Homo sapiens: one gene and its partner. The protein of the gene in region 1 purifies or fractionates together with the protein of each later gene. This does not show direct contact. Each region holds a gene or a part of one and is shown on either strand. Other genes may lie near its edges.

The links. The genes of interacting proteins can lie anywhere in the genome.
Region 2: the proteins of EIF6 (region 1) and BCCIP purify together in Homo sapiens (affinity purification with mass spectrometry; 5 studies listed by BioGRID and IntAct, with this or other methods). This does not show direct contact.

The regions. Positions count from the first base shown.
Region 1 is NC_000020.11:35,281,328-35,286,754, forward strand, and holds the start of EIF6 (eukaryotic translation initiation factor 6), read right to left. Parts: upstream 3,446-5,427; 5' UTR 3,399-3,445; intron 3,391-3,398; exon of another isoform or gene 3,166-3,390; 5' UTR 3,161-3,165; coding exon 3,054-3,160; coding exon of another isoform or gene 2,935-3,053; coding exon 2,849-2,934; intron 1-2,848. Other genes in the region: protein FAM83C, read right to left, coding at 5,208-5,427. UniProt on the Homo sapiens protein: Binds to the 60S ribosomal subunit and prevents its association with the 40S ribosomal subunit to form the 80S initiation complex in the cytoplasm. Behaves as a stimulatory translation initiation factor downstream insulin/growth factors.
Region 2 is NC_000010.11:125,829,595-125,834,429, forward strand, and holds part of BCCIP (BRCA2 and CDKN1A-interacting protein), read left to right. Parts: intron 1-967; coding exon 968-1,057; intron 1,058-1,825; coding exon 1,826-2,013; intron 2,014-4,177; coding exon 4,178-4,352; intron 4,353-4,835. UniProt on the Homo sapiens protein: During interphase, required for microtubule organizing and anchoring activities. During mitosis, required for the organization and stabilization of the spindle pole.

The DNA of each region.
Region 1 (5,427 bases):
GTGAGCCGAGATCGCGCCACTGCACTCCAACCTGGGTGACAGAGCGAAACTCCGTCTCCAAAAAAAAAAAACAAAAAAACAAAAAAAACTGAGCTAACACTACACACATAGCAGAATGGCTAGATTATTATTTTTTAAGGCAGAGTCTCACTCTGTCACCCAGGCTGGAGCGCAGTGGTGCGATCTCAGCTCACTGCAACTTCTGCATCCTGGGTTCAGGTGATTCTCCTGCTTCGGCCTCCTGAGTAGCTGGAATTACAAGTGCGTGCCACCACACCTGGCTAACTTTTTGTGATTTTGTAGAGATGGGGTCTCACTATGTTGGCCAGGCTGGTCTCGAACTCCTAACCTCAGGTGATCCGCCCACCTCGACCTCCCAAAGTGCTACGATTACAGGTGTGAGCCACTGCCCCCAGCCAGAATGACTAAAATTTTTACAAGTCATCAATTCCAAGTGTTGGCAAAGATATATGGAGCAACTGAACTCTCATACTGAGACAGGAGTGTAAGTTGGTCAATCACTTTAGATAATTATCTGGCATCATCTGCAACTACTACTAAATAGTCACATAACCTGTGACTCTGCCATGCCACTCTTAGGTATCATATACCCAGTAGAAATATGTACATGTGTTCACTAAAAAAACATAGCAGCACTATTACTTTTTTTTTTTTTTTTGAGACGGAGTCTTGTTCTGTTGCCCAGGCTGGAGTGCAGTGGCACAATCTCGGCTCACTGCAAGTTCTACCTCCCCGGTTCACACCATTCTCCTGCCTCAACCTCCCAAGTAGCTGGGACTACAGGCACCCGCCACCACACCTGGCTAATTTTTTTGTATTTTTAGTAGACACGGGGTTTCACCGTGTTAACCAGGATGGTCTCGATCTCCCGACCTCGTGATCCGCCCGCCTCGGCCTCCCAGAGTGCTGGGATTACAGGCGTGAGCCACCATGCCCGGCCAGCAGCACTATTCCTAACAGACCAAAGTGAAAACTGCCCAAATGCACTGTCGATGGAATGGATGAATACGTTGTGATATACTTACACAAAACACACCATACAGCAACAAGAATGAACAATCTACAAATACACGCCAATCAATTTCTGAATTCCAGGTCACTCCCATCATAAAATACACAAGGACTAAGCTAAAATCTCCCTTGTTGTCAGAACTTGCTTCAAGTCCTAAGGGCATGGTTAGAGATCAGAGTATTTTAACTGAATAGGAAAATACTTTGAGGTCACTAGGCTTAAGTTTTTGTTGTTGTTGTTTTTTGTTTTTTGTTTTTTTTTGAGACACAGTTTCACTCTTATTGCCCAGGCTGAAATGCAATGGCACAATCTCAGCTCACCGCAGGGTGAGCTCCACCTCCAGGGTTCAAGCAATTCTCCCGCCTCAGCCTCCCAAGTAGCTGGGATTATAGGTATGCGCCACCACACCCGGCTAATTTCTGTATTTTTAGTAGAGACGGGGTTTCTCCATGTTGGTCAGGTTAGTCTCGAACTGCTGACCTCAGGTGATCCACCTGCCTCGACCTCCCAAGCAGGCTTAAGATTTTTAAAAATTAAAGTAAAAGTAAAAAAATAAAATAAACAGACTTCTAAAAGTGACCTCAATGAGCAGAACTAAGAAACAATGGGCAGCAGTAATGGAAGACAGATCCAGCTTAATGAAAGGACCGGCCGGGCGCAGTGGCTCACGCCTGTAATCCCAGCACTTTGGGAGGCCGAGGTGGGAGGATCACCTGAGGTCAGGAGTTCAAGACCAGCCTGGCCAACATGGTGAAACTCCATCTCTACTAAAAATACAAAAAAATTAGCCGGGTGTGGCGGGATGCGCCTGTAATCCCAGCTACTTGGGAGGCTGAGGCAGGAGAATCACTTGAAGAGAGTGTTGCAGTGAGCCAAGATCGTGCCATTGCACTCCAGCCTGGGCAACAAGAGCGAAAACTCCATCTCAAAAAAAAATAATAATAATAATAAAAAGGAAAGGACCAACGACCAGAATTAACAGTGCTGACAGGTAGGAAGGTAGGGTAGAGATGTGGTAAAGGGAATTTAAGATTCCAACGTAACTGAGCAGGAAGACCGCATATCTTAGCTAATCTTTACAGAGACAGAAATGGATGCTTAGAAAGAGAAAGCACCTTGCCCAGTCAGTGGCAGGGAGAGATGAGATACAAATCCTCGGCTGGGTATAGTGGCTCTCGCCTATAATCCCAACACTTTAAGAGACCAAGGTAAGAAGATCACTTGAGCCCAGGAGATCAAGGCCAGGCTGGGCAACACAGGGAGGCCGCGTCTCTACCAAAAATGTAAAAATTAGCCAGGTGTGGTGGCACGTGCCTGTGGCCCTAGCTACCTGGTAGGCTGAGGTGGGAGGATCACTTGAGCCTAAGAAGTTGAGGATGCAGACAGCTGTGATCTTGCCACTGCACTCCAGCCTGGGCGAAAGAGCAAAAATCTGGCCTCAAAAAAAAAAAAAAAAGAGAAAAATCCTTCTCCAACACTAGGAACTAGGTGTGGAACTTACTGAGTCACTTAGGTCAAGTCTCAACTTCCTCATCAGTCAAGTTAGGCCAGTAACTCCTACCTTCTAGTGTCTTTGTGACGAAGGAATGAGAACAGGAGTGAAAGCACTTTACATTATTTGTTATTACTATTATCCAGCAGCCTTTGCTAGAGGGTTGCCCCGATCTCCTGACGCTTGGCCTGAGAGATTCTATAGTGCCCAGAGATAACAGATGATACCCTGGGAATCCCTAGGTCACTCCGGGTTCCCTCCGGGGGTGTAATTAATGGTGCTTGGAGACCACTCCCTCCCTCGGCGTCCTCCACCTGCCTTACCCACACACATGCGCCCGATGATGCGGCAGCCGGCGATAGACGCGTGCACCACGGGGATGGTATCGGAGAGCTCGCCCTCGAACACACTGTAGGGACATGGACTCGGTGGTGGCGGGGCAGAGGGGCCGGCACCCTCCCACTGCCGGAGCTCTTGACTCCTGCGCACGCCTCCCCGCCACCGTAAGCCCCGGGGCTCCCGCCGCACCTGTAGAAGTTCTCTGAGCCTCCGATCGCTACCAGACAGTAGGTGTTGGTGAGCTTGGCAAAGCAGCCGATCTCACAGTTGTTCTCGAACGAAGCTCGGACCGCCATGAGGCCTAGGGGCGGCGGAGGCGGGAGTTCAAGGCCGGCGGATCCTTTCCCAAGTATCCCGGCCTCCGTCCCTCAGGCCCCGCCGCGACCCCGCCCCTCTCGGCCTCCCGGCCCCTCCGTCCTCGGGTCCCGCCCACTGGGCCCCCACCAGAACCTCCGGCCCTGAATCCTCTGGCCCCCACCCCTCCCGACCCAGGACCGGAGCTGACCCTCCCAGGTTCCCCTCACACCAGCTTACCAAGTAACCAGTAACAAGCTCCGCACGCGGCGACTGTACCTTGGACTCCCTAAAAAGGTTTCCGTTTCCACTTCCGTCCAGGGAGACTTCCGGGAGAGCCCGGCGCTCCCCGCCACGCATCCAGCCCCTCTACCTCCGGCCTCCGGCGGACTCTATGGTCGCGAGCGGTCTGGGCGCGACCCCGCCTGGCCCCACGCCTAGCCTGCTCGCGTTCATTCATTCATTATTCATTCAGGAGCTTTTTAGGAGCTGTCATCGACCTAGACCTCCGGCTGGTCGGTTGTGAGGCATGAGGGAGAGGAGGGGCCAGGAGTGTCTCGCGGAAGGGTTGATGATGGAGGTATTGATGGAAATGAAGCCGGAGGAAGGGCAGGTTTGGGGAAAGGGATGAGTCCAGCTGTGCCTTGAGGGACAGAAGTCCATGTCTGGAGCCCAGCAGGGGAGTGGAGTGCTGACGAATGAGATGAGGGGCTGAAGACGGGTGGACTAGAAGAGGCTACCCATGGAGAGAGTTCCAGGAGGCAGAAGTGCGGCCAGACCGAGGCTGGAGAAAGAGCGCAGCCAGAGACGGAAAGGCAGCCAGGCTGCAGGTGCTGGAGAGAGGGGAGGACTGAGGAAGCAGGGGCTCAGGAAAAGGCTGGAAAGGGGTCCAGGGTGGGCAAGGATGTGGGTGCTGGTTGGCTTCCACGATGTGCCTCTCGCACGGCCTCTATCACTCACTCAGCAGCCAACTTCTGTCCCCAGGATAGTGATGGGGGCCAAGGGCCCTGCTGCACACTTGGACAGGATGAACTTGGCCCACATTTTGTAGAATCTGCAAAAGCCCCGGGTTCTCTCAAAATGTCACAGTGGTAACTTGGAGCCCCTGGACTCCCCCAATTCCTCCTTCGGCATTCACCCTCCTCCAGGGGTTTCCCCATAATTGGCCTGAATGGTGCCCTTCCCATTCCCCCAACGTGTCCCTCCCATAACTCCTCAAAGTTCAGGATACACCAGGCGCTGTGATTCACAATAAAGTCTGCCTTTATTGATGTGTATCATGTTTACTATCCCGGGTAAGTGGTGAGTTCAGGAAAATGGCCCACAACCTGTCACAGCCTGTACTTCAAGAGACACTCAGCAAGATGATGACGACGACAATGATGATGATGATGATGATGACTCAGCAAGATGATGACGACGACAATGATGATGATGATAATGATGATGTGTGTGTGTGTGTGTTTCCGGGTATCCACATACTCTGCTCTTCCTCACTCATTCACCTCAGACCCACTCAGTCCTCTTTAGGGCATCTCTTTCACCTGATTCTCTCTACCAAAAATTTTTCTAACTCTCTCCTCCCTCTGTCCAAAACCTCCCCATCCTTCAGGGCCTGGCTCAAAGGCCACCTCCATCTCCTCTAAGAAAGTTTTCTGACTACTCCACCTTCTCCAGGACTCTCTGCCCTTTGTTTTCTAACACCCTCTGTAACTGGTTAACCTTTAACTTGATATGGCTCTGACCCCTTCTCCAGCAGCTTGTGCATTTCACCTCTGTCCCCAGGTCTGAGTGTGACCCACCTGTCAGCTCTACAGGCCCAGCACAGGGCTGGAAACACAGCCTAGATTCAAGAAGATACTAGTTAGGGTGTGTGTGTGTGTGTGTGTGTGTGTGTGTGTACACAAGAATCTTGAGCCCAGAGAGTGTGTCTGACCTGGGTTTCTAGACACCTCCCTTCCCCAGTCTGGGACCTGAGCAAGTCCAGAGTCTCGGTGGACAGAGGAGGGGCCTGCCCTTGCCAGTGCACCCCCGATGCCAGTCCTTTGGCTAGGACTCAAAGCGGCTTCGGAGCTGCTTGAACTTGGACTTGTTGTACTTAGTGATGAGGTCCAGTTTGCTGTGACCCAGGGTCAGCCGTTTCTCATCCCTGACCAGGTCACTGTTACCACCATTGAGATGGCCACCCTTGGGACCCCCAGGCTCAGTTCCCTGCCTGGCCCCGTGCAACTGATGATACTTGGTGATGAGGTCCAGCTTGCTGTGGCCC
Region 2 (4,835 bases), on another chromosome or scaffold:
TGTACACTTTTCAAGGCTTCTGACAATATTAGTAACTTTATGGCACTCAATGTAAAGAAAATGAGAAATTAAACCTATGGGGCATTCCTTTTATTAGGGCAATGGGAAAAAGCAGACCACCTGCCCTTTCATCAAATAAATGTGATCTCTAGCTGATTCGTGTCTTAGAAGACCTAATGGATATGGAGGAGAAGCAGTTATTTTTATCCTTGAAAGAGGTTATTATCTAATGGCAGGATTCACTCTTTAAATGGATAATCACATCAATAGCTCTGCAGTTGTAACTGTGGCTTCTTGGGATTCTCCAGAGACACTTGAGGTGTCCTGAGGATAGAGACTTCTTGTTCTTAGTAAAGGGACTACCCATAGTGTTCGGTGGAGCCAGTCCCTAGGATCATAGAACAAAGGGCAGGGGGTTCTCTTTTTTCCCCTTCTCTCTTGCTAATGTGATAGGTGTAAGTGGCCCTCAAGCATTGCCTAGCTTCACTAATGGTCAAGACTGACAAGTGTTCTGGAAACTCATGAGTTTTAGATGAAACAATGCTGTGGGCCAGCAGAGAAGCAAGGCTTGGCTCCAGCCTAATTGTGTAGAAAACAAATGAAAATGCTTTATTTCATGAGGTTTATCTCTTCTGGATTTGTATTATATTGAGAATCTGATAAAAGAAAATGACTTAATCTGGTACAAAGAAATTTCAATCTGTTCAGAATCTGAAAAGAGGAACAGAGTCGAGGTAAAGCGAAATGAACAAGGTCACACAGTATTTAAGATACAATGCTTTCCAAGATGATGGTGGTAAAACTGTGACAGTATTTAAAATACAATGCTTTCTAAGATGGCGGTGGTAAAACAAAGTTTTGCTTTTGAAAAGTGAAAAGATAAATGAGGCCTACATCCCAAGACTTGGTTTTATACTCTTGGTATTATACTAAATATAACATTTAAATATTTTTTCTTTTAAAATAGCAAACGGATGTTTCAGAAGACAGCAATGATGATATGGATGAAGATGAGGTTTTTGGTTTCATAAGCCTTTTAAATTTAACTGAAAGAAAGGTTGGTTTCACTGGATGGCATCTGAATGGTTATTTCTTAGGCCAAAACCACTTTTATTTAATGCATGGTGAAAATGTCTTTTATGTTAAACAGTGATATTAACTATAGGGATAAGTGCTCTTGTGAAATCTTATTGTAATCCTTTTTCAATATGAAGGTGGTGGTGTTGGGTCTGTACCCAGTTAAAGTTGTTTACTCCCTGTGGTTTAGGGAATCATCTGGCTTTGCAGTCCTGATGTTGGTACTGATGCAGGAGCTGTTTGTGCTGTCTCTCTGCAGCTGTTATCTTTGCTACTTGTGTAGTGGGGATATTCTCAGGCTTTGCTGCCTCAATGTTGAGGGCATTTACTGACATTTTATTTTGTTTCGATTCATCTCTTTTTATTGATTCTCTGATGAGTTGTAATAAAAAGTAAACCAGCTGCTTACCCACCTCAGAATAAGATGCAGGCTACACTTAGTCTTTAATTTTGAAATAAACTGTCCAGTTACTTCCATCTATCTTTATGAGATGGACTAGAGTTGCCATTCCAGTGTGTCTGAATGTTAATTATGACTCTCTTACCACTCATCATGGGATGGTAAATAACCAGTGTATTTACTTTTGAGAAATGCTTAAGCAGTCAACACTGAAGACATACAAGACGTTAAGGCTATGGCAGGAAACTGCCCTTAGCTGTAAGATGAAAAGTGATAGCTTTTACTCTCAGGTTTTGTCCTCTATGTGATGGCTTGTAATAGGAAACAAGCTTTCTCTTTGCTTTCTAGGGTACCCAGTGTGTTGAACAAATTCAAGAGTTGGTTCTACGCTTCTGTGAGAAGAACTGTGAAAAGAGCATGGTTGAACAGCTGGACAAGTTTTTAAATGACACCACCAAGCCTGTGGGCCTTCTCCTAAGTGAAAGATTCATTAATGTCCCTCCACAGATCGCTCTGCCCATGTACCAGCAGCTTCAGTAAGAGATTCTGGGAAAATATCTTTGAACAGTAATTTTTTTTTCAAATAGATTCCTAAATGTCATTTAAGTAGAATATGTAGATATAGAAAGAGTTCTGTCCTTGGTTTAAGTGGGTTTAGTGTGAGGGGAGTGGAAGAAACATCCTGTGAAGTACATACATTATTAACAACTGGCTTTTTGAAGAGTTTGTGACAATAATCATGAAATTTTAACTTAAGATTTAAGTGATATATAAGTAGATAATTTCATATAGACTTTGCATCCCCATTTGATTGAAGTTTTTCACCTTCACAGATAGCTTTCTGCAACATGAATAAAATAATGAACAATTACAACAATAACAAAACTGGTAAAGTTCCCAAATTCTATTGGTATGTTTCATAACAAATGAAACCATAGTCCTGATACTGTGGCTAGCTTTTCAGGGTTTTTGTTATTCTATTTTTTAATCCAGAAGTTTTAAGTTTACAAAAATATTTCAAATGTAGCTGTGAAATCTAGCAAACTGAGTGTACTAAGAATTGTATTGTCTGTGCTTTGCAACAGAGGACAAAATATAGGCAGATTCTCTTATTTATTTCTATCTAATTTAAATTTTTTTTTTTTTTTGGTAGAGACAGGGTCTTGCTACATTGCCCAGGCTGGTCTTGAACTCCTAGGCTAAAGTGATCTTCCTGCCTCGGCCTCCCAGTGTTGGGATTACAGGTGTCAGTCACAGCACTTGACCTAGACAGGTTCTTTATAGAATATTCTTTCTCAGAGGTCATAGCCCTTGCGTTGTGGTTTTCCTTTAAATAGCTGTAGGAATGCAACTCTACTCTGGAAACCTTTACGTTTGCTGTTTTTTCCTAGGGATTCGATGCTTCTTATCTCCTGCTCCCTGCTCTCTCAGCTGTAGCTCAGATTGTGCTTCTGGTGCCTTAAGTGGTTTTTGTTTTTTTTTGGTTTTCTTTTTTTCTGATCAGCTGGAGCTCACATTTATTTGGTTTTATAGGAGGGTGATTTGCTTTCTCCTAGTCCTGTTAAAGCTGAAGTGAGCCAAGCGCAGTGGTGCACGCCTGTAGTCGCAGCTACTCAGGAGGCTGAGGCAGGGGGAATGCTTGAGGCCAGGAGTTCCAGGCTGCAATATACTATGATTGTGCCTGTGAATAGCCACTGCACGCCAGCCTGGGCAAAATTACAAGACCCTATCTTTTTTTTTTTCTTTTTTTTTTTTTGAAAAGGCCAGGTGTGGTGGCTGACACTTGTAATTCCAACACTTTGGGAGGCCGAAGCTGGCAGATCACTTGAGGCTAGGAGTTTGAGACCAGCCTGGCCAACATGGCGAAACCCCAATTCTACTAAAAATACACCCACAAAAAATTAGCCGGGTATGGTGGTGCAGACCTGTAATCCCAGCTACTCAGGAGGCTTAGGCACGAAAATCGTGTGAACCTGGCAGGCAGAGGTTGCAGTGAGCCGAGATTGTGCCATTGTACTCTACAGCCTGGGCAACAGAGTGAGATTTTGTCTCCAAACGAAAAAAAGAAAAAAAAAAAAAAGGAAAGCTGAAGAGGACGGTTGTTCTGAGTTTCTTCTTTTGTTCAAGGGCATCCAGATGCACAAGGCTATGTTTAATTTTCAGAAAGAAGAAACATTAAGGCTTTGTTGCGATTCCATTGCTAGAATTTAGGTTGTGTGTTTATGCAGTTTCTGCAGTATGTCAGAAATTAGTTCCAGACTCTAGCAATTAGAGACTGTGGTAGTAGTCACAGGCTGTAGTGACATTGGTTGTGGCTGTATACCTTTGTGTGTTTCAGTTAAATGTTCATTGCTTTAAAAAATTCAAAAATTCAGATTCGTATATATTTTTAACTTATGCACAGGCAGAGCAGTGATACATTGAGTGAATTTGAGACTCATCTGATCTGTTAGTTGCTATATATCCACAAATCAGCATAATCTGAGAGATATATCATAGTATTATAAAAAGTAATACATAATCTAAAATGCAACTGATTATGTAAATAAAAATCATTCCTGTAGACTAAGTGTTCAGATTGAATGCCTGCGTCACAGCAGAACCCACTGAAGATGCCTCACCGGGTTTTCTGTGCTCTGGTTTGTTGATGGATTTCACTTGACCCAGCAGGTAAACAAATGTTGTGTGTGTGCCTTGCAGGAAAGAACTGGCGGGGGCACACAGAACCAATAAGCCATGTGGGAAGTGCTACTTTTACCTTCTGATTAGTAAGACATTTGTGGAAGCAGGAAAAAACAATTCCAAAAAGAAACCTAGCAACAAAAAGAAAGCTGCGTTAATGTTTGCAAATGCAGAGGAAGAATTTTTCTATGAGGTAAGACTATCCTGCTTATTTGTTTAGATGTAAATAAGGATTTTCTTGAAAATGATTTATCAAGATTTATTGTTCTCCCACTTTAGGTCCAAGTCTTTCAAGTGTGGCTACTCTGTTTTTCTGTTTCCCCACAGGACCTAGCAGCTAACATAGTGCCAGGTGCATAGTAGGTACTCAGGAGGCTAGGCACCAGCCTCCTTGCCTGCACTGTGGTTATGAGCATGAGGAGGAGGAGGAGAAAAGTGATTAACCTGTTAAGAATGATTAGGCATTTATAATATGCTTCCTGTGAAATCTTTCATTCTAAAACCATGCGGAGAGGTAGACATTAGCCTGGGGTTTACAGATGTGGACTTTAAGGCATAGGGAAATGAGGGAAATTACCTGCGATCACACAGCTGGTCAGTGTGGAAGCTGGGGCACCCCTGCTGCTCTGTGTCCTTAGTCGTGGATGTCATCCTGCTGGTGGGATATCTCCAGCAT